Linked DNA regions of Homo sapiens. The protein of the gene in region 4 interacts with the protein of the main gene of each other region in a pairwise test. Each region holds a gene or a part of one and is shown on either strand. Other genes may lie near its edges. The genes, in order: ABHD4, HM13, KASH5, DERL1, CIAO2A and TEX44.

Region 1 (4,772 bases), on a different chromosome or scaffold from region 4:
GTAATCCCAGCACTTTGAGACCCCAAGGCAGAAAGATAGCTTGAGCCAAGGAGTTTGAGACCAGCCTGGGCAAAATAACAAGACCCCATCTTTACAAAAACTAAAAAAAAAATTAGCTGGGCACATGTAGTCCTAGCTACTTAGAAGACTGAGGCAAGAGGACCCCTTGAGCCCAGGAGTTCAAGGCTGCAGTGAGCCATGATCATGACACTGCATTCCAGCTTAGGTGACAGTGAGAATCAGTCTCAAAAAAAAAAAGGTTGCATGAAAGAGACAAGTCCTCTGCTAGTTGAACTACTTTGTACCACATCTGGCAAATTCCTAAGCCCCTAAACTCTATAAATGCTGGTTCTCCTAAACGTTAAGTCTTTATAATGATCAGCTTAACACTGTGTTGCTACAAAGAAGAAATCTCAGAATCATCTGGGTCCTGCAGGAAGGCTAAAGAAAAATGCTTTGATAAACCCCTGTGCACCAGCATTCTCTCACCCATCCTCCACCACTCCCCAGTCTGGTTTTTTTTGTTTGTTTGCTTGTTTGTTTTTGGTTTTTGAGATGGAGTCTCACTCTGTCTCTCAGGCTGGAGTGCAGTGTCACAATTTTGGCTCACTGCAACCTCCGCCTCCTGGGTTCAAGCAATTCTCCCTGCCGCAGCCTCCCCAGTAGCTAGGATTACAGGTGCCTGCTACCACACCTGGCTAATTTTTTGTATTTTTAGTAAGAGATGGGGTTTCACCATGTTGGCCAGACTGGTCTCGAACTACTGACTGCAAGTGATCCACCCACTTTGGCCTCCCAAGGTGCAGGGATTACAGGCGTGAGCCACCGCGCCCCACCCCTAGTCTGGTTTTAACTAAGGGGATGATCTGAAATCTGACAGTTCCAGGGAGGTCAGGCCCTGTTTACCGGTACAAGCAAATTCAGCAGCCAGCCTCAAGATTTAGCTCCTCTGCTGAGCAAACTGAAGTGCACTCAGGACCTCTGGGCCAAGCCAGCCTTATCTCCCTGTCCCCGCATTTACATACCGAAAGGAGACCTAGCCTTATTGGTGAGTCCTTCAACTGTTATCCTCCAAACTGAGGGTGACCTGGAGTTGAGCTATATTTTCCCTGGAAAATAGGTTGGGGTCAGAGTCAACATCAGAGCAGAGATATGCCCATTTTGGCAGATGTCATATAGGTTTAGGTTTGCCAGAGAAAATACAGGATGCCTACTTATGTCCCAAATACTGCATGGCCCATACTTATTCTAAAAAAGTATTTGCTTTATTTAAATCTGGAATTTACATTTAACTAGGTGTCCTGTATTTTAGTTTCGAAATCTGGCATCCAGGCCCTTTGTAGGAGCATTCAACCAATGGCGTTGTCTCCACAAACATTTAAGCCTCTTACTAGAAGGAACATTAACAAGGGTCGATTTCAGGAGGACACAGTTACAATGGGAAGCCCAAAGAGTGGGTGCGAGCGTGCAGGCGTAGTTCTACCACTTTTTAGTTATGAGAGAAGGGAGGGCTGTCGGAGCTCCTGCAAGGACTCCCCCAAATGTGTGACCAGGATTACTGTCCCATTCTGAGACCGTCAGAGACATCTCTGCCGGGACACATGCCAGTGATTGAAAACACAGCAAGGGCCCCACTAGCTGAAACCAAGTTGCAGAGTTTTGAGGGTCCCACCGCCGACCGCCGGCCCGCCGCGAGCCCTGCCCCCTGCGCGGCCACGCCCCCTTGCTCCCCGCGGCCTCCCGGGTCAGCTGGTGCTGGCGTCAGGCGCTGGGCGGGCTCGCCAGGACCTGGCAAGGCTTGTTTACTATGGCCGATGATCTGGAGCAGCAGTGAGTTAATCCTGTCCCTTTCTCTCTTTCTCTCTCTCTCTCTGGGCCATGATCCTGGGACTGTCTGTGGCTGAGGAACAGTTGTAGACACCTTCCCGCTCTTCCTTTTCCAGGTCGGCCTCCGGGGAGGGCGGGGGGTGGGTGCGTTGCTTGCTTTGCATTTGCCCAGAAGAGGCAGCGGCTGAGCCTGGGGAGCCATGGGAGACGCGCTCGCCCGCAGCCCGGGGATCCTGGCTTTCTACCTTAGTCCTCGCGAGTGCCCCTCATTCTCCTCTGGCCTCTGGAGAGATTCCATGTTGATGTGTGAGATCCCCGAAAGCAAGCTTGTGGGACGCGGGTGCGGAGGTAGCAGCCAGGCGTGCTCGTCTCGACTTGCCCCCCAGAACGGCAGTCGTGGGGATGGAGAGAGCCTCCTCCCTCCGCCCGGCAAAGAGAAGATGTGGAGAGACTGGAGAGGTCTCCATCGCGCTGAAATTGGTGTGGAACAACGGGCTTGCAAGTTTCTTTAGCTGTCGCCCACCGAGACACGTAGCCGCATGTGATCCTAGTTGATAATGCTTTTAATAATCGTAACAACATCTTTAATGCAATGGTTTCAGATTTAGAGCTATTGGGATTTGCTACCACTCTTTCAAGGGCATCAGGTTTGGGATACCACCTGTAGGTGGTGTGACTAGCAGTTCGCAATCTGATAGGAGTAAGAAAAAGTTGCTACGAGAAGAATGACTCAGCTCCCAGCCGAGCCTTGGTTTCACCAGAACTGGGCCTTTCCTGGACCCAGTAATCCTGTTTTTCAGACCTGTAGAACTGGAAGTCCGGGGAACTAATTAACTTTATGACCATAATTAATAGCTTGCTGGGCTTGAAAGAAATGTCCAGGGGAATGTTTTACTTTCTAAGATGACTTTTCCAAGAGGAAATTTGCAATGCTTTAAAGGACTTAGGGAGGCAGAATATTAGAGCTGGAGGACATGCAGGTAGTTCAGCTCCTTTTTAAAAATGAAGAAGCTGGTGTCCATAGAAATTAGGAGACTTGCCCAAGATCACAGAGGTCTAGAACAGGATTCTCTCCCAGCACAGAACCCCTTGTGCTTCACCCCCATCAAGTTGACAGAGACCGTCCTAGCCAGGTTAAGTTCATGGCTGAATGTCTTTTCTGCTCCTTGCCTCAATTTCCCACTCCAGCCCTTACCTCCCGCATAGTTTTGAGCACATACAGTGTGCCAGGCACCATTTCCAGTGTTTACTTGTAACATTTTTGGTGAAGAAGGAAAGCAAAGTAATTCTCCCACCAAGGACTCTCTGCTGAGCAGTCTATGATGCTGTTCCTTGGGTAGCGTTTCTCCTGAACTCTGCTTTGTACAGTAACAGGACAATGTGGGATCCAGGTGTTATGATCTGACTTGTCACAGTCTGTGATTTAGAGAGAAAATTTGTCTCTTAAGGCTGACAAAATCCTGTGGTCTTGGTCCCCGTGCTTCAAGCCTACAAGGAATTCCAGTAGAATATTAAAAGGATTCTGAGTCTCCCTAGGATTAGATCGATTGATATTGACAACTCTCATCTGGCTAAAACCATTGATGTATCACTCCCAGCTGCAACCCCAGTTTTTCTTTCAAACTTCAAACATCCACTGAGAGTTGCTACTTGCAAAACACTGGGAATGTAGACAACTTATGATTTAGCTGGGGGGAAAGAAAGTTGATTGGGAGTTTGTGCTAGGCAATATTCTATGTGCTTTAGATGCATTAACACTTTTAATCTTTATAGCAACCCTATGAGGTAGATATTATTACCTCCCTTTTAAAGATGAGGAAGCTCTGACACAGAAAAGCTAAATAATGTGCCCACAGTCACATTGCTGGTAAGTGACAGTGCTAAAATTGGAACTCTGGCCTTCAGAGTTTAGATCACACCTCCCTTGAGAAAACAGACATAAATGTAAAAATGTGGTTATGTTCTGTGAATATTTGTACATGACCTTGAAAAGCTGAGGCTGGAAGGTTCAGGGAGAGAAACCTGGATTTGAGATAAGGGGCTCTAGTTCTGGTTCTTTTTTTCTAACTTGTATGACCTCTTTGGGCATCAGTTTGCTCATCTGTAAAATACAGAGGCTAGACTAGTTGATTCCTAAGGAAACATCCTAATTTAAAATTCTGTGCTTCAAATGATGTATCAGGATGCCCAGTGTGGGCCAAGGGGATTTGGTCATGGTTCCCCTCACTCCCCCTTAGAGTGCCCTACCTTGAATATGCCAGTGTTCACAGGCCCTTCCTATAGCTGTAGATATCTGTCCTGTAACTCAGGCAGAGTTCAAGAAAAGAGAAATATCATATGGGGTTAACAAGGAATAATACAAACTGTCATTCATTGAGCATCTCATTTGTACTGGGCATCTTACAAGTGTCCTTACATATACAGATGCTCAAAGACAGGTTATTTAATGGGCCAAAACCATTCTGCTCATCAATGATAACACTATGATTCACGTCCAGCAGGGGGGTGTGTGTGTGTGTGTGTGTGTGTGTGTGTGTGTGTGTGTGTGTGTAATTCCAAAGCTGGTGCTTTTAACCTCTACCTTGCAATGACTTAAGGTCCCTGGGTATGAAGGAGAAAACGGGATGAGTTATCTGTGTTACCGCATGTCATTAGAGGTGAGGACATAGGTGAGCTTTCTACTCATTTTACAATCTAGAAAACAAGACCAGAGGGAACCTGTGTCCTGTCAGTGAACCATAACAGAACTTGAATCCAGGTCTCTCACCTCCTCCTCCCTGCCTACCCCATCTCCATGGGTTGGACTGATTGATTACCTGAGAGATCAGTTGGGCACAACACAGTATTCCACACTTCTAGGGGCTTGGAAGAGGGCATACATAAACACCAACCAGTGCCCTGCCAGTAGGGCAGATGGCATGGGAATTTGTCCTACTGTTAAGGAA
Region 2 (4,087 bases), on a different chromosome or scaffold from region 4:
AAAGTCTTTATTCTCACTCTTAATAAGAGCTCAAACTAAAGCACACTGAGATTCTGTTTTTTGTCTATCGGAAAGGTAAGAATCCACACACTGGGTAACATACTGAGTCGGTGGGGCTACGGGGAAAGATGTAGTCTCCCACACTGCCTATGGGAGTCAATCTGTCTTCCTGTAGAAAGCAACTAGGCAATACACAAAAAATTACAAATGCACATACCCTTTGACCAAGCAATTCCATCTGTGGGAATTCTCCCTACAGATATAGTTCATAAATAAGTAAAATGCTACACATAAAGTGTATCCAAGGTATTCCTTGCTCTGTTAACGGCTTGCTGAGTGACTGGGTTTACTTCTCTGTCAAACAGGAGGACAATCTCTAGCCTCACTTCAAAAAAGGTCCAAGAGCCTTCTTTTTTTTTTAAAGAAAAGTGACAGGGTCTCTCTCTGTTGCCCAAGCTGGAGTGCAGTGGCAGGATCATAGCTCACTGCAGCCTTGAACTCCTGGCATCAAGTGATCCTCCTGCCTTGGCCTCCCAAAATGCTGAGATTATAGGCGTGAACCACCACACCCAGCCCCATAGGAGTCTTAAAGCAAATAAGATATGGGATGCGAAACAGCCTGGCAAACTAAAGTACTGTGCCTGTATTGGGGGTTGTGACTATCAGGGAGAGGTGAGTGAGGAGGCCCCTAACCACACCCTTGCCTATGCATGGCTGAGGCAGCCCAGGCTCTGGGCTGGAAGGGAGACCCTCCCCTCTGGAGCCACTGGAGGCAGCTCCATGTGAGTCACTTGGACAGCTTTGCTAGGAGGTGGGAGTGGGGTGGGTGAACAATACCCACATGAGAGGCCCAGTTTCCTTCCTTCCCTATTCTCTCCCAACCCTTGGCTTCTGCTTTTGCCAGCAGTGTGCTGTGGGACTTGGGCAAGTTCCTCATCCCCTCTGAGCATCTCCACACATTCAATACATTTCCTGTGTAGCAGTAGTATGGGTACAAAAATGAGTTCCTGATCTTGAAACACTCACAGGCAGGTAGGTTAATACTGTGACATGATACATATTACAGGGAACACGTATTCTATTTTATGGAATGCACAGCAAAACTGGCTGGGCGTGGTGGCTCATGCCTGTAATCCCAGCACTTTGGGAGATGGAGGCGGGCGGATCACCTGAGGTCAGGATTTCGAGATCAGCCTGGCCAACATGGTGAAACCTTGTCTCTACTAAAAATACAAAAATTAGCTGGGCGTGCTGGTGTGCATCTGTAATCCCAGCTACTTGGGAGGCTGAGGGAGGAGAATAGCTTGAACCTGGGAGGTGGAGGTTGCAGTGAGCCGAGACTGAGCCACTGAACTCCAGCCTGGGTGGACAGCGAGACTCTGTCTCAAAAAAAAAAAAAGACCAGCCTGGCCAACATGGTGAAACCCCGTCTCTACTAAAAATACAAAAATTAGCCGGGTGTGATATTGTGCGCCTATGGTCCCAGCTACTCAGGAGGTTGAGGCAGGAGAATTGCTTGAACCCGGGAGGTGGAGGCCGTAGTGAGTGGGGATCGTGCCACTGAACTCCAGCCTCGGCAACAGAGCGAGACTCTGTCTCATAAAAAAAAAAAAGCCCCCCTCCCAAAAAAAACCCCAAACAGGCTATTATAATGTAGTGTGACACATGATGCAATAGACATGTATATCACTGTGACACACAGTATGAACATCAGCAGTTATGAAGGGACTCTGAGATCAGGAAGTCCATTTGGACTCCCAGCTCTACTTCCCAGCTGTGGGACCTTGGGAAAGTGATTTTTTTTTTCTCTAAGCCTCAATTTCCTCAGCTGTAAAACAAGTTGTGAGGATTCTGATTTCTGCTTTGGAAGTACTCAGCATTGTATCTCGAGTCATCATTTAAACCGTATACACCATTTGTATCATTATTATGCAAAACGGAATCACGACACAGCCAACAAGACACTATTTCTGCAGAGAAGTAAGGGAGTCAGAGGTGGCAAGAGCAGGTACCACTTAAGCAAGGCCTTGATGGTCAAGCACAGTGTCTGGTAGTCTGGAGCCAGACAAATGCTGACTGGGTTTAGGAGTCAGCTTGTCAGTTTTTTTTTTTTGTTTTTTTTTAGTGGAGTTTTGCTCTTTTTGCACAGGCTGGAGTGCAATGGCACAATCTCAGCTCACTACAAATCAAGTGATTCTCTGCCTCGGCCTCCTGAGTAGCTGGGATTATAGGCACCTGCCACCACACCCAGCTAATTTTGTATTTTTAGTAGAGATGGGGTTTCACCATGTTGGCCAGGCTGGTCTCAAACTCCTGACCTCAGATGATCTGCCTGCCTTGGCCTCCCAAAGTGCTGGGATTACAGGTGTGAGCCACCATGCCCGGCTTGAGGAGTGTGCTTTGTGTACAAGGAAAGGAAGTGCTTATCAGGCAGAAAGATATGCACATGCAGAGGCTCAGGGCTGTCAAAGGACACGCAGGACTCTGTGGCTTCACCTACAAACCAGCATTATGGCTCATTTCCACATATTCCTTTCAATTCAGCTCAGCACCCTGGGTGGGAAGAGGCCTAATCTTATTCAGTGACAAACCAAGGTTGGACAGATCCTCTCCATTACACAGAGGACTCTGGTCTCCTTTGCGGGTGACTTATAAATATCCCATGCTGCAATGCTGAGTCAGAATGGGAGACTGGACTGTAATCCCAGCACTTTGGGAGGTCAAGGTGGGCAGATCGGTTGAGCCCAGGAGTTTGAGACCAGCATGGGCAACATGGAGATACTCTGCCTCCATTAAAAAAAAAAAAAAAAAAAGAATGGGAGACCTGAAATCTGACGATAATAGTAATAACAATAACATTACTGCACTGTTCTAGGTACTTTACATGTTTTCATCCTCACAAAAACCCCACAAAGCAGGTACTTTTTTTTTTTTTTTTTGAGATGGAGTCTCGCTCTGTTGCCCAGGCTGGAATGCAGTGGTGCAATCTTGGCTCACTGCAACCTCCGCCTCTTGGGTTCAAGCAATTCTCATGTCTCAGCCTCCCGAGTAGCTGGGACTACAGGCATGTACCACCACGCCCAGCTAATTTTTTGTATTTTTAGTAGAGACAGGGTTTCACCATGTTAGTCAGGATGGTCTGTCACAAGATCCTGACCTTGTGATCTGCCTGCCTTGGCCTCCCGAAGTGCTGGGATTACAGGCGTGAGCCATCACGCCTGGCCAGCAGGTACTTTTAATAGCTCTTTTACAGATGAGGAAGCGGAGGTCTAGAGAGGTGAAGTAACTTGCTTAGTGTCACACAGCTGGTGAGTGGCAGAGCCAGGACTGAAACTGAGGCAGTCCAGTTCCAGACCCCAAACTCTTGGGAGCTGTTTCCTAGAAGATTTCTATCTTTCCTATCTGGAAATTTCGGTTGGAAAGTTTTAACAGGAAGATACTTGGGAAGCCTGCAACCTTTCTGAGGAACAGAATCCTGAAGGTAACTGAACAGCTAATCTTTGTAGTTACAAAAATACTAAAAAGTTGCTAGGATTCTTTACCAATCCAATTGCGATTTTTTAACCAGATTTGTGTATGTAAATACAATAGATCCTGCAACATAAAACACAATTAGAAAGTGGGGGAAAAACCTGACACAAACAGCAGAAGTAAATGTAGCTTCCAGTGACATTCTGGATGTTGTTATCAGAGCGGAAACAAAAGCTGTAAGAGAGGACAGATGCCTGCTTCAAGCCATTGGCACGGTTCAAGCTCTCGGAGCACTGCTTCTACGCCATGCCCTGGAAATGATCTGAAATTCATGGGCCATTCTGTTACTGTTGACCCAGCTGGAGACTCCAGAGTCTCCATTCTTTACCACAACATCCAGTCACTCAGCTCTCCAAGGTTACCTTTCCTAACTTCCCACCCCAATCCTTTGGCCCTCATTGCTGCATTGCTGTCTTCACAACCCCTGCACCAACATTACACTTCTCCCTCCTGCCTATCACCCACCCTGCCATGAGCTCTTTCTAAAGCCTACACCTGATTGTATCACGTATCTGCTTAAAAACCTCTGGAGAAGCCAGGCACAGTGGCTCACACC
Region 3 (4,087 bases), on a different chromosome or scaffold from region 4:
CTGAGCCCTCTTGTCTCCCCAGTGTACCTCCGGGAGCGGCCTGAGGAGGCAAGGCTGGGAATGCCGGTCAGCTTGGAGGAGCAAATACTCAACTCCACGTTCGAAGCTTGTGACCCTCAGAGGACAGGTGGTGGGGGCATGAGGGGTGCTGGGGACCAGTGCGGGCAGGATGGGGTGGAGGCTGGGAACTGGGGAGCCTCAGAGAGAAGACTGGGCTAAGGCCCCCTCTTGGGGGTATTGTAAGAACAAAGTGGGTGATTATGGGAAGCTTCAGGAAGAAGAACGTGGATAATGGGGTGAAGGCCTTTTAGAATGAGGAAAACTTGGGGGACGTTGATGGAAGAGGGCAGAGTTTTGGGGTCGTGGGATAGGGGAGGGAGGCAGCCACCATGGTGGCGTGGGGCATGGCTGATGCTGTCCCTATGTCCATCCCCTTTGGTTTACCCTGTGATGGGGGGATGACTGGGCCCCATTTCCAGGTGAAAAAGTGGACTCAGAGGAGGGGAAAGGGCTTGCCCAGTGTGTCTCCACTGGGCCATGGAGCAGGAGTGCCACCAGCCTAGCCAGTGACATCCTGGTCCCAAGCTGCTGCCAGTCCATACCCATCACTCCCCACCTGCCCCAGACCCCCTCACTGCATGCTCTGTCACAGGCACTGTGGCTGTGGCCCAGGTGCTGGCCTACCTGGAGGCTGTGACAGGCCAGGGCCCCCAGGATGCACGCCTCCAAACATTGGCCAACAGCCTGGACCCCAATGGGGAGGGCCCTAAGGCCACTGTGGACTTGGACACTTTCCTGGTTGTCATGCGTGACTGGATTGCTGCCTGTCAACTACATGGGTGAGTCCCCACATCTTCATCCTCCTCTGGGAAGTCCTTCCTAAGATCTAACCTCATACCTGCTTACTGGAGCCAGCATCCTTTAGGCCCAAGGACCTACTGTGTTTGGAATGAGGCTGTGGAGAGAAAAATGAAGAGACGGGATTCAGAGGGGGTAGATAGGGAGTCTGAGGACAAAATAATTTGGATGAGGAAGCAGAGGGGGTCTGGGAGACAGAAATAAAATGGGGCTGGAGAAGGGAGGAGTTTGGGGCTGACAGAGGTCCCTCCCCAACCCTTCACCAAACCCACTCCTTGCCCCTCCTGCTTTTCCATCTGGCCACGGGCACTTGCCATCTGGCCTCACCCTCCTACCCTGTGGTGCCAGCTCTCACCTGACCCGGTCCCCTCCTCCCACCTGCAATCCCCCTGCCTGTGGCTGGTGAGGACTGAGGGGCAGCTACAGTGGGGCGCTAAGCCTCATCCCTTTGATACAGGGGATTAGAGCTGGAAGAGGAGACCGCCTTCCAGGGAGCCCTGACCTCCCGGCAACTGCCATCTGGTGAGATTGCTATATATAGAATGAAGCAGGCAGGCCCTGGGTCAGACAGTGTGGGGACTTACCACCCAGGGCAGAGCAAGGGATAGGGTAGGAACCAGGGACCTTTACTGTAGACTAGAGCTGTGAGTGTGGCTTTCTAGGTCCTCCGTCCCTTCCTTCCGTGAGCTTTGGGTTTCTTTTCTTCAGAGGGTGGTTTCCAACTCGTTCTCCTCACACCAGCCCTATTAGAGAGGCCTACGAGGCCCCGCCTACCTCTGCTCCATCATTAACATCACCTCTCCTCACTCTAGTCCAGGAATTCACAGGCCCACTGGTCTTGCTGCCCTTCCTCGAATGTGCCCCACTTCTGCCCAGCACAGGTCCTTGCTCAGGCTGTTCCCCTCCACTCCTTGCTCCCCACCCTGCTGGACTTTTTTTTTTTTTTTTTTTTTTTTTTTGAGATAAGAGTTTCACTCCTGTTGCCCAGGCTGTTGTGCAATGGCGCAATCTCAGCTCACCGCCACCCCCGCCTCCTGGGTTCAAGCAGTTCTTCTGCCTCAGCCTTCCGCATAGCTGGGATTACAGGCATGCACCACCACGCCCAGCTAATTTTGTATTTTTCATAGAGACGAGGTTTCTCCATGTTGGTCAGGCTGGTCTCGAACTCCCGACCTCAGGTGATCCAACTGCCTTGGCCTCCCAAAGTGCTGGGATTACAGGCGTGAGCCACTGCGCCAAGCCGTCATCCACTCCTCTGGCAAAGGGGAAGCCCTGGTATGCCCCTGGCTAGAGTTCCTTGCTCCCCATGCTCACTCCTAGACTTGTAGGCCTTTCCATTGGAACATCCACCTGCAGAGGAAATCTGATTATCTAGTTAGCCACTGGCACCTGGGTTTAGTTGGCTGGTTTGCTCACCATTGTATCCCCAGGACCTCACACATAGGAGGTGCTCCATAAAAAAAGTGGTCATGATTACAGGCGTGAGCCTGTAATCCCAGCATTTTAGAAGGCCAAAGTGGAAAGAACATTTGAGCCCAGTAGTTTGAGACCAGCCTGGGCAACATAGTGAGACACCATCTCTACTAAAAATAAAAAATTAGCTGAGTGCGGTGGCATGTACCTGTGGTCCTAGCCGGGACACTGAGTCAGGAGGATCGCTTGAGCCTGAAAGGTCAAAGCTGCAGTGAGCCATGCATTGCACCACTGCACTCCAGCCTGGGCAATAGAGCAGGATCCTGTCTTTTAAAAAAAAAAAAAAAAAATGGTGGTCATGTTCCATTTCTCTAGCCATACAAAAAACGGTGGGGAAGGAAGTTCTCTTCAACCTCCTTCATCAGGCTTGGGGGCCCAGGGAGGGCTGCAAGCAGAGGAGGGACTAGAGGCCAGAAGGCCAGAGAAGAGGCTCTGGTGAGGATCCAAGAGGAGAAAGCAAGGGCCGGGGCATGGAGACAGAGAGGAGGGGTGGAGCAGAGAGTCAGGGGCAGGAGGGAGAAGTCTGGGCTCTGCTGGACTGGGGGTGACAGGGAGCAAGGGAGCCAGGTCCGCCCAGTGGCTGAGTGGTCGGTGGGGGATCTGGGAAGGGGAAGGTGAAGTGCTGCCCAGTGTTGGGTGTAAAGAATGTGGGGAGTTAGGGTTATCTGGGAGATCCAGCCTGAGCTCAAGGTAGAAGACAAGCAAGAGGGCTTTACAGTGGGTATAACTGCAGCCCCAAAAGCCCATGAGATTCTCCAGAGCACAGGTGAGGGTGGAGGCAGATGGAGTCCAACCTCAGAGCCCTGGGGCACTTTACGTTTAAGGGTTCCAGGGAAGCCAACATTCTCTTGGCTCTCTCCCTCCAGGATGCCCAGAAGCTGAGGAGCCAGCCAACCTGGAGAGCTTCGGAGGCGAAGACCCCAGACCCGAGCTGTACCTATCCTCACACCCCTCCCTGACCCTCCTGCCCACACCCTGTCCCCTCCAGCCTGCCGAGGCCCGGGTAGGGCTTGGGATCCTTCAGGGAAATGAATGAGGGACGGGGCTTTGCTGAAAGTTCAGGGAGAGCAGAGGAGTCTCTCTCCTGTTTATCTTTCCCCAAAAGAGCCACATCTCCCCACCACCAGCACCTACCTCGACCCGGGGAAATGAGTCAGGGGCTGTGGACAGTGACCTGAACCCCTTCCTTGCCCCTAGACAAGCCACAGCTGACCTGCTGAGCAGCCTGGAGGACCTGGAGCTCAGCAACCGACGTCTGGTTGGGGAGAATGCCAAATTGCAGCGGAGCATGGAGACAGCTGAGGAGGGGTCAGCACGCCTTGGGGAGGAGATCTTGGCTCTGCGTAAGCAGCTTCACAGGTGGGCTGGATGCCACACCCACCCTCCCCAGCGCCCCTGCCTCCGTCCTCCCTGCAGCAGCCGGCCTCTATCTCCCATGCTCGTGTCTGCATCCTGCTCTTTGACTCTGTACCTGTCCTTTCTTTTCCCTTTTCTGTTTTTATCTTTTGTGTCTCTCTGATTCTTATCTCTCAGCCTCTGTTTTGGTCTTTTTATCTTTCCCTTGAGGGTTCAGACTTCTCTCTCTCTCTTTTTTTTTTTTTTGAGACAGGTTCTCACTCTGTCACCCAGGCTGGAGTGCAGTGGGGGTGATCACAGCTCACTGTACCCTCCGCCTCTGGGCTCTAGCGAGCCTCCCACCTCAGCTTCCCAAGTAGCTGGGACCACAGGCCCACCACCCTGCTTGGCTAATTTTGTT
Region 4 (3,404 bases):
TATGTGGAAGTGACTTTGTTCTCTTCTCTCCGTTTGTGTCCCCGTCTTTCTGCACCAGGTACCGCTGGCTGCCCAGTAGGAGAGGAGGAGTATCAGGATTTGGTGTGCCCCCTGCTAGCATGAGGCGAGCTGCTGATCAGAATGGCGGAGGCGGGAGACACAACTGGGGCCAGGGCTTTCGACTTGGAGACCAGTGAAGGGGCGGCCTCGGGCAGCCGCTCCTCTCAAGCCACATTTCCTCCCAGTGCTGGGTGCACTTAACAACTGCGTTCTGGCTAACACTGTTGGACCTGACCCACACTGAATGTAGTCTTTCAGTACGAGACAAAGTTTCTTAAATCCCGAAGAAAAATATAAGTGTTCCACAAGTTTCACGATTCTCATTCAAGTCCTTACTGCTGTGAAGAACAAATACCAACTGTGCAAATTGCAAAACTGACTACATTTTTTGGTGTCTTCTCTTCTCCCCTTTCCGTCTGAATAATGGGTTTTAGCGGGTCCTAGTCTGCTGGCATTGAGCTGGGGCTGGGTCACCAAACCCTTCCCAAAAGGACCCTTATCTCTTTCTTGCACACATGCCTCTCTCCCACTTTTCCCAACCCCCACATTTGCAACTAGAAGAGGTTGCCCATAAAATTGCTCTGCCCTTGACAGGTTCTGTTATTTATTGACTTTTGCCAAGGCTTGGTCACAACAATCATATTCACGTAATTTTCCCCCTTTGGTGGCAGAACTGTAGCAATAGGGGGAGAAGACAAGCAGCGGATGAAGCGTTTTCTCAGCTTTTGGAATTGCTTCGACCTGACATCCGTTGTAACCGTTTGCCACTTCTTCAGATATTTTTATAAAAAAGTACCACTGAGTCAGTGAGGGCCACAGATTGGTATTAATGAGATACGAGGGTTGTTGCTGGGTGTTTGTTTCCTGAGCTAAGTGATCAAGACTGTAGTGGAGTTGCAGCTAACATGGGTTAGGTTTAAACCATGGGGGATGCAACCCCTTTGCGTTTCATATGTAGGCCTACTGGCTTTGTGTAGCTGGAGTAGTTGGGTTGCTTTGTGTTAGGAGGATCCAGATCATGTTGGCTACAGGGAGATGCTCTCTTTGAGAGGCTCCTGGGCATTGATTCCATTTCAATCTCATTCTGGATATGTGTTCATTGAGTAAAGGAGGAGAGACCCTCATACGCTATTTAAATGTCACTTTTTTGCCTATCCCCCGTTTTTTGGTCATGTTTCAATTAATTGTGAGGAAGGCGCAGCTCCTCTCTGCACGTAGATCATTTTTTAAAGCTAATGTAAGCACATCTAAGGGAATAACATGATTTAAGGTTGAAATGGCTTTAGAATCATTTGGGTTTGAGGGTGTGTTATTTTGAGTCATGAATGTACAAGCTCTGTGAATCAGACCAGCTTAAATACCCACACCTTTTTTTCGTAGGTGGGCTTTTCCTATCAGAGCTTGGCTCATAACCAAATAAAGTTTTTTGAAGGCCATGGCTTTTCACACAGTTATTTTATTTTATGACGTTATCTGAAAGCAGACTGTTAGGAGCAGTATTGAGTGGCTGTCACACTTTGAGGCAACTAAAAAGGCTTCAAACGTTTTGATCAGTTTCTTTTCAGGAAACATTGTGCTCTAACAGTATGACTATTCTTTCCCCCACTCTTAAACAGTGTGATGTGTGTTATCCTAGGAAATGAGAGTTGGCAAACAACTTCTCATTTTGAATAGAGTTTGTGTGTACCTCTCCATATTTAATTTATATGATAAAATAGGTGGGGAGAGTCTGAACCTTAACTGTCATGTTTTGTTGTTCATCTGTGGCCACAATAAAGTTTACTTGTAAAATTTTAGAGGCCATTACTCCAATTATGTTGCACGTACACTCATTGTACAGGCGTGGAGACTCATTGTATGTATAAGAATATTCTGACAGTGAGTGACCCGGAGTCTCTGGTGTACCCTCTTACCAGTCAGCTGCCTGCGAGCAGTCATTTTTTCCTAAAGGTTTACAAGTATTTAGAACTCTTCAGTTCAGGGCAAAATGTTCATGAAGTTATTCCTCTTAAACATGGTTAGGAAGCTGATGACGTTATTGATTTTGTCTGGATTATGTTTCTGGAATAATTTTACCAAAACAAGCTATTTGAGTTTTGACTTGACAAGGCAAAACATGACAGTGGATTCTCTTTACAAATGGAAAAAAAAAATCCTTATTTTGTATAAAGGACTTCCCTTTTTGTAAACTAATCCTTTTTATTGGTAAAAATTGTAAATTAAAATGTGCAACTTGAAGGTTGTCTGTGTTAAGTTTCCATGTCCCTGCTCTGCTGTCTCTTAGATATCACATAATTTGTGTAACCAATTATCTCTTGAAGAGCATTTAGGAAGTACCCAGTATTTTTTGCTGGATTAATTCCTGGATGCAGAATTCCTGGGTTTTCATTTTAATGAAGGAGGATGCTTGCTAACTTTGAGTGAGGAGTCATATCTGATTGTAGCATGCTTTATGGCATTTTTATAGCTTCTACCCATGGATCTGAGCCCTGGAACTTTATAAAATTAGTTTAATCCTGTTTCCTCATAAGGCACACACAGACTAGATAGCAGGTGCCATGACATTCCTGAGCCCTTTTTTTTTTTTTTCCTCGAGGGTGAACATCCCAGTCTGTATCTTGGGCCTTCGACAGGCCAACTTCACTCATCACAAGGTGAGGTGACAGGAAGCAGGTTGTATGTATGTCCCTCTTCTATTACTGGGGAAATACTGAAGCAATAGAAAAAGATCCCGCTTATTTAGAAGGACACATTGCCAGTATCATTGTGTTCTAAGCTACCTTTTGAATGACATGGATCTAATAATAGGCAATGTTGCAGTTGCCAACATCTTCGTTTATTGCCAACTCTGTTTCTGAGGTCCCTGCCCCTCTTACACTTTCAGCAGTAACTTAACACTCTGAATAACTAACCTTTGAAAGAAGTTACTCCTTTCTGGACTTTATACTGTTTTTTTCTTAGAAGGCTGGGCTGAGCAAATGGGTTTACTGGCAGTTCACTTGTTTGCCTTCCAGAGTGACTGGTGATCAGAATTGGCCAGGAATACCATGTCCTGTGTTTACTTCTTTCTTAACCCTCCCTCCCACCTTCCCTCCCTGTCCCTCCCTCTTTCTCTCCCTCTCTCCCTCTCTGTCTCTTCTTTCTTTGTTTTTTTGAGACAGGATCTCAGTCTGTCACCCAGGTTGGAGTGTAGTGGCATGATCTCGGCTCGCTGCAACCTCTGCCTCCCAGGTTCAGATGATCCTCCCACCTCAGCCTCCTGAGTAGCTGGGACCACAAGTGTGTGCCACCACACTCGGCTAATTTTTTGTATTTTTGTTCGAGATGGAGTTTCACCATGTGGC
Region 5 (2,974 bases), on a different chromosome or scaffold from region 4:
AGAACATTTTCCATGTGCATATATTAGTTCTTCTTGCATGAATTTCCTGTTCATGTCTCTATTAATCTACTAGATCTTTTTTTAAAATTAGTTTGAATGGATCTTCATATAATAAAGGTATTGGCCCATTATGTTTTCTGTAATTAGCTAACAGCATTCTTAATAGAAGAGTTCAAAAGAGAGACGACTATATTCTTAATGTGGATTGAGTTTTCTGGGCTGCCGCTGAAATGTCTCATGTAGAAGACACACAAACATACACATATTCCTGCGAAAATACTTTCAATTTGGTTTCTTCCTACTACAATGTAGGCTCCACAAAGGCAGGAATGTATCTCAAAGGCTGAACTGTACCCACACATAGAAGGCACTTAATAAATACTTACTAAATGAAAAACAAGACTCATAAGACTTAATACTATTGCTGCTGTAAAATCCTATCATTCAAGGAATTTCAAAACGATAACCTGAGTGGATTTAGGGTACCTAAACTCTTATTTTTCTAAATTACAGGTAGAAGCCCTCAGCTCGTGGGGTTTAAAGAAATTCAGCCCACAAAGAGTATAATAATCTACATGTCTAGAACTATAAATAGGGCATGGTTTTTAACAGTTTTCATGACAGTACCTAAAAAGTTTCCTGGATAGGCTGTTCCTCTGGAAGCAGCAGGCTTCCCTCTCTATAGCTCTCTTTTATGTAGGAGATTTTGTGTGTCTCTCTCCAGCCCTGTGTATGCCTTTCTGAGTCTTCTTGGTATCTATCTCACTGTTGCTCTTCCTCTATTAGCTCTTTCTTCCATTCCTCTGCTATTTTTTCCCACCTTCTCAATTTACTTAGTGATGAAACTTAAGTACAACATGCCTTTTAAATGTATTTCTCATTATTTGCACTCTATCATTTGTAGATTAAAAACATTAAAATTATGTTTTTAATGTAACACAGGGATCATACAGAACATTTTGTTTTTTGCTTTTCCCAAACCCCACTTCTGCTATTTTTAAGTAGCTACTGATTGATTTCTCTCTGTAGGCCAGAGGTCCTCTATATAAAAAAGGTTCCCCACTCCCATTCTAATATACTAACCCAGAGAGACAGCACCTACCCCAAGATTCACTAAAGCTCTACTTGCTAGACCTTCAATTTCAAGTACACAGCTCTCTATCCTGTCACCAAAGAAAAGAAGCCTACTTAGAGCTCATAAGTCAAGGTCCCCAGCACTGGATATTCTTTACAGATGTGTAGCCACTGGCCTAAACCAGTCAACATCCGTGGGCTCTAGTGCACTCGGAGTCCACTGCAAAAATTACTTCTTTGAAATGCCTAGGTTTCCTCACCTAGGAAGGAAGAGCCAATAACCAATTGTGCACTTTTTTGAAAGTAACCCAGTAGATTCTTGGCTGGCAGAAGAATCCAGTATCCAAGATAAAATACTATCTGAAGTTGTTTTTCAATTATGTTTCAACATTCACTTACTGTCTTCTTCTGTTGAGTGGGTTCCTTCAGAAATGTAGATTTCCAACTGGAAAGTGGGAAAAAAAGTAAAAGAAAAAACATTAATGCATTCTAAGATAAGAGAGTGAAGTGGAATGTACAGTAAATTCAAACATCTAGGGATGAGTGCCCAAATCCTGTTTCTTTTTTTTTTTTTTTGAGATGGAGTCTCACCCTGTTGCCCAGGCTGGAGTGCAGTGGCATGATCTCGGCTCACTGCAACCTCCGCCTCCTGGGTTCAAGCAATTCTCCTACCTCAGCCTCCCAATAGCTGGAATTACAGGCAGACGCCACCACACCCAGCTAAGTTTTGTATTATTATTTTTTTTTTTTAGTAGAGATGGGGTTTCGCCATGTTGGCCAGACTGGTCTCAAACTCCTGACCTCAGGTGATCCGCCTCGGCTTCCCAAAGTGTTGGGATTACAGGCGTGAGCCACTGCGCCCAGCGCCCCCCAAATCCTGTTTCTAACATCAGAGACATAGGGACAAATCCCCCACATCCTTCTCTAAAAAAAAAAAGGACTGAAATGAGTAGGATTTTTTATTTTGTTCACCTGGAAAAGGCCTGCAGGTGGTATTTCCATTAATTTTTTTATGAATACACAAAAATATCATTTTACACAAATGAGATCTCATATGTGTGGTTTTACTTAAGAATATCTCTTTTCTGCACTCTACTTCTTCCCAACTCGGTATCTAAACTTCCTCCTGCCCTGCTACTGACTCAGGAAATCTACAATAACAATCTAGTGTGGTTTCTTCCATATTCTTCTCTTTACCCACATAATCTTACACAGATTTTACACACACACACACCCACATATCAGGGTTGGAAGTTTCTTCACATTGCTTGTTTTACAAAAATGGGATCACAATATAGTTTTCAGCATCCTTCTTTTCTCATTCATTATTATCATGCTAAATTTATTCTCAAGTATAATACTGGTTAAGCTATCCCTCCTGGCCCTGCTGCACCTATAGACATGAGCTACCCTCCAAGACCCAGAGCTTTTAAGACAACCTACAAAATTATTGCAAATCCTGTGGTAAAGAGAGTATGCTGTAATAAAGACGTCTACTTTCCAGAGAACACTGGAACATATGAACTAATTTTTATTTACTTATTTACTACGGAGATAAACATTTCTCATGAGTGAGAAAAATCATAACTTATTATAGTTAAAAGGGACCTTAAAGGTCATCTAGTCCAATCTTTTTTTTTTTTTTTTTTTTGAGACAGGTCTTACTCTGTCGCCTAGGCTGGAGTGCAGTGGCGCGATCATGTCTCACTACAGCCTCGACTTCCTGGGCTCAGGTGATCCTCCCACCTCAGCTCCCACACTCCCACCCCTCTCCTCCCTCGTCTCTATTTTTTTGTAGAGACCGCGTATCGCCATATTGCCCAAGCTGGTCTTGAATTCCTGAGGTTAAGTGATCCGCCCATCTAGGCCTCCCAAAGTACAGAGATTATAGGCGTGAGCC
Region 6 (3,867 bases), on a different chromosome or scaffold from region 4:
GACTAGTGAACCATCTGTGGCCAGGGCCGCACATGAAGGCATGCAGGTGAGAGCTGCTGAGGGCACTTGGCTAAGGGTGGGGCTGGAGCGGACATCCAGCAGGGGCATCACTCACCAGGTCATACCACCGGGTGCTCCACAGGGTCTAGCCAGAGGGTGGGCTGACAGCTTCCGAAGCAGATGGCTGCCCCGTCGCTGCACTCAAGGCCGGGCCTTGCTAATGCTTTCCCAGATGCATATCTTCACAGACAAGAGTAAATACCACGTAAAGAGACCTGGGTCTAAGGTGAGCAACTCATCCTAGTTTGCCTGGGGTTTTCCGGTTTTAAATATGAAAGTCCTACAACCCAGAAACCCCCTTAGTCTGAGGCAAACCAGGACAGTCGGTTTGCTTAGACTCCTGCTCCCTCTGCACCCCCAGCTCACCGGAGGATAATGATAATGGCAGCCACCATGTGTGGGCTTATCAAGTGCCAGACACCATGCATTATGGCCTGCATCGCTTCCCTTCTGTCTTATAACAGTGTCATGGTATGGATTTATTCTCTCCTTTCTACAGCTGAGTAGGCTGAGAGTGACGTGATTCGCCCAGGGCAAGTGCTGGCGCTGGGGTTTGAACCCACATGGTGTGACTCAGTACTGTCAACTGCACTGCCTCTTCTGCCTCTCAGCTTGAGCCCGCCAGGCCAGCCTAGGCCCCTGGGAAGGCTCCTCAGGAGCTTACCTGGGTGGAGGTTCAGTAGGGATGGGTTTTTGCAGGTCTGAGACACCCCCCGCCACACTGCCTCCAGCTCTGTCCAGGTTCTTCTCTGCACGTTTGCCCCCAGCCCCTGAATGGGACAGCCTGAGAAACCCTCAGGGGACGCTGTTTCCACCGCACCCCGAGCCCTCCTGTCCTGTCACCGTGTTGCTCACTGCACCCCAAGGGAGGAGGCTGGTGCTTAGAAATAAATGCTCACTGGTGATTTATTGCATGGGCTGGGGGAACCGTCCAGAGCAAGAATGGGCAAGGGAGCAGGGCGTGAGGGTCCCAGGGATCTCTGGAGGCCACTGAACCAGCCCTTCGGGGGTCCCTGTGCAGGGCTCTAATCATAGTTGGGGTCAGCCTGGGCCTGGCGTGGGGTGAGGTGGCTGGTCAGGTAGCGCATGGCTGAGCGGATGCCCTCCACGGTCCTCTGCTCCACTGTCTCCAGCACACGGGTGATGGTGCGCAGGGCTGAGCTGGTCCCTGACACCAGCCCAGAGGAGAAGGCCGAGCTGACGCTTCCCACCAGGCTGGGGACCGAGCGCAAGCTGGGCCCCGAGCTGTGCAGCAGGTCTGCCACAGTGCTGTGGCCGGAATCCAGGAAGCCTGTGGCTATGGCCATGCCCATGGTGGTCTCGGACCACACCAGGATGTCTGCCAGGGAGCTGATGGAGCCCTCGCCCCTGTCCAGCAGGCTGGTCATGGAGCGCATGTAGCTGTTCTCCTCACTGGCCGTGTACAGGCTGGAGTCCAGGGGCCTTCTCCCCAGGGCCACCTCGTGGGGGCCAGGCGACGGGGACACACTGCCTGCTGGAGGTGGAGGGAAGAACCAAGTCTGCAGGTCTCCTAAGCTGTCCACCACATTTGCCCCCATTGCCACTGGGGACTCATCAGATGGTAAAGCTTCAGCTTCAGGGTGTGGGGCCTTTGGATGCTCAGCTTTCTCCTCAGCAGACTTGGTGGTGCTGGCAGCCTGAGGGCCATGCTGGCCATTGGCACCTGCTGTGACATGGTCAGCATCACTCTCGACGGGCTGAGCCTCCATGTGCTGGGTGGACTGTAGCTCAGCACTCGGGGCAGAGGGGGCTGACTCCGGCTCTCTCTCAGGAACACTCGCCATTTGTGACATCTTGTCTTTACCCAGGAGGTGACTTGGGAAAACCACTAGACTCTGACTTGTCCTTGCGTCTTGAACCTGCCTGTCCCACGCTGGATTCTGAAGGCTCATAGACACTTGCAGGGGACTTGGATTTTGGCTGGGAAGCAGAGGTGTGATTTTTCTGGGTGTCTTCTGGCCGTGTTCTGGAACAACTGCACTCTTGTCTTTGTCTCCAGATGTTGATATGGCCCTGGGGGTGGCCGTCTTGAAGGAGGCCTGATCTATATCCTGCCAGTCAGTGGATGCGACAGAGCTGCTCACTGCCAAGACATCTGCTGTGAGTGGGACCTGACCTTGGGGCTCTCCTGCTGGGCTGTCCTTAGACCTGCTGTCATCCACGTTGCCCAGGGGGTACCCTGGGAGTGCCATGTATGGGGCTGCTGGTGGAGCCGGCCTCCCCCTAGGGCTCTCCTGTGGTCATCTATGCCCTTTGCTGCTTGTGGCGGTTGGAGGGAGTGGCTGCAACCCAGCTGGGCTGAGTTGTCCAAGTGGTGAGGTCACAAGGGACTGTGGCCACTGGTGATGTCACAGGTACCCATAGAGCAAGGGTCTTGAGCTTCTGGAGCAGCCTTCCAAGTGGGCTAAGTCTATGGGACAGTTTGTTGCCAACTTTGCAGGTACATAGGGAAAAAATGACAAATGTTCTTGAAAGGGCTGGAGGCGTGTGCACAGGGGCAAGTACAACCACAGGGACACAGGAGGAGTGACAGCTGTGACTCTGACAAATGAGAAGGGATGCAGATGTTGATTTAGAACAGTGTTTATAAGGGACCCCTCCTGGCACCTCTCTGTCTACACTGGTGCCTCAAGACCCCAATTTAGGCTGGGCATGGTGGCTCACTCCTGTAATCCCAGCACTCTGGGAGGCTGAGGTGGGGGGATCACCTGAGGTCAGGAGTTCGAGACCAGCCTGGCCAACATGGTGAAACCCTGTCTCTACTAAAAATGCAAAAAGTAGCCGGGCGTATTGGCGTGCACCTGTAATCCCAGCTACTGGGGAAGCTGAGGCAGAAGAATTGCTCGAACCCAGGGAGTGGAGGTTGCAGTGAGCCGAGATCGCACCATTGCACTCCAGCCTGGGCAAAAGCGTACTCCGTTTCAAAACAAATAAACAAACAAAACAACAACAACAACAAACAACAACAAATAACCACCCCCAATTTAGTCAGTGTTCCTGCAGGGAATCAGTTTCCCAGCAGTGGTGAGTAGGTATAAGCAAAAGCCAAGGGCCTGGGCAGCTCCATTTGTGGCTGTGGGTTTAACCCTTTTGATGTAGGGCAAAAATCTCTATCTTCTCCTTGCTCATCTGGACTAGAAGGGCAGAGAATAACAAAAGGTCTGCAGACCTCTGAGTGTTTCTTGGAGAAGGATAACCCCAGATACACCTACTTGTGCTTAGCTGGGCACGGTGGCTCATGCCTGTGATCCCAGCACTTTGGGAGGCTGAGGCGGGCAGATCATCTGAGGTCAGGAGTTTGAGACCAGCCTGACCAACATGGAGAAACCCCGTCTCTACTAAAAATACAAAATTAGCTGGGCGTGGTGGCACATGCCTGTAATCCCAGCTGCTCGGGAGGCTGAGGCAGGAGTATCGCTTGAACCCCGGGAGGCGGAGGTTGTGGTGAGCCGAGATCGCACCATCGCACTCCAGCCTGGGCAACAAGGGCGAAACTCTATCTCAAAAAAAAAAAAAAAAAATGCCTACATTAAGAAGATGTTTGGAGAGGAAGGCTCAGTCGGTCGTGTCTGTGCTTCTCCAGGGGTTATCAGCTAACATTTAGTGACTGCTTATGGGCAGAAAAGGGCGCATAGCATCCTTCTCATCACCCATCACCTCTGGGTAGGTACGGTTCTACTAGTATACTCAGTTTACACACAGGCATGCTGAGCCTCACAGAGAATAAGCGACTTACTCAAAGCCACACTATTAATAAGAGCTGAATCTGGGATTTGAACCCTGTCT

Evidence for each region.
Region 1: the proteins of DERL1 (region 4) and ABHD4 interact in binary tests that used the Homo sapiens proteins (3 or more experiments, as listed by UniProt).
Region 2: the proteins of DERL1 (region 4) and HM13 interact in binary tests that used the Homo sapiens proteins (3 or more experiments, as listed by UniProt).
Region 3: the proteins of DERL1 (region 4) and KASH5 interact in binary tests that used the Homo sapiens proteins (3 or more experiments, as listed by UniProt).
Region 5: the proteins of DERL1 (region 4) and CIAO2A interact in binary tests that used the Homo sapiens proteins (3 or more experiments, as listed by UniProt).
Region 6: the proteins of DERL1 (region 4) and TEX44 interact in binary tests that used the Homo sapiens proteins (3 or more experiments, as listed by UniProt).

What each region holds. Positions count from the first base shown.
Region 1 is NC_000014.9:22,596,500-22,601,271, forward strand, and holds the start of ABHD4 ((Lyso)-N-acylphosphatidylethanolamine lipase), read left to right. Parts: upstream 1-1,800; 5' UTR 1,801-1,807; coding exon 1,808-1,830; exon of another isoform or gene 1,831-1,943; intron 1,944-4,772. UniProt on the Homo sapiens protein: Lysophospholipase selective for N-acyl phosphatidylethanolamine (NAPE).
Region 2 is NC_000020.11:31,520,581-31,524,667, reverse strand, and holds part of HM13 (signal peptide peptidase), read right to left. Parts: intron 1-4,087. UniProt on the Homo sapiens protein: Catalyzes intramembrane proteolysis of signal peptides that have been removed from precursors of secretory and membrane proteins, resulting in the release of the fragment from the ER membrane into the cytoplasm.
Region 3 is NC_000019.10:49,394,454-49,398,540, forward strand, and holds part of KASH5 (protein KASH5), read left to right. Parts: intron 1-22; coding exon 23-127; intron 128-652; coding exon 653-839; intron 840-1,315; coding exon 1,316-1,380; intron 1,381-3,197; coding exon 3,198-3,264; intron 3,265-3,528; coding exon 3,529-3,690; intron 3,691-4,087. UniProt on the Homo sapiens protein: As a component of the LINC (LInker of Nucleoskeleton and Cytoskeleton) complex, involved in the connection between the nuclear lamina and the cytoskeleton.
Region 4 is NC_000008.11:123,012,240-123,015,643, reverse strand, and holds the end of DERL1 (derlin-1), read left to right. Parts: intron 1-58; coding exon 59-197; 3' UTR 198-2,474; downstream 2,475-3,404. UniProt on the Homo sapiens protein: Functional component of endoplasmic reticulum-associated degradation (ERAD) for misfolded lumenal proteins. Forms homotetramers which encircle a large channel traversing the endoplasmic reticulum (ER) membrane.
Region 5 is NC_000015.10:64,074,019-64,076,992, forward strand, and holds part of CIAO2A (cytosolic iron-sulfur assembly component 2A), read right to left. Parts: intron 1,520-2,974; coding exon 1,474-1,519; exon of another isoform or gene 1-1,473. UniProt on the Homo sapiens protein: Component of the cytosolic iron-sulfur protein assembly (CIA) complex, a multiprotein complex that mediates the incorporation of iron-sulfur cluster into extramitochondrial Fe/S proteins.
Region 6 is NC_000002.12:231,591,358-231,595,224, reverse strand, and holds TEX44 (testis-expressed protein 44), read right to left. Parts: upstream 2,362-3,867; 5' UTR 2,274-2,361; coding exon 1,086-2,273; 3' UTR 949-1,085; downstream 1-948.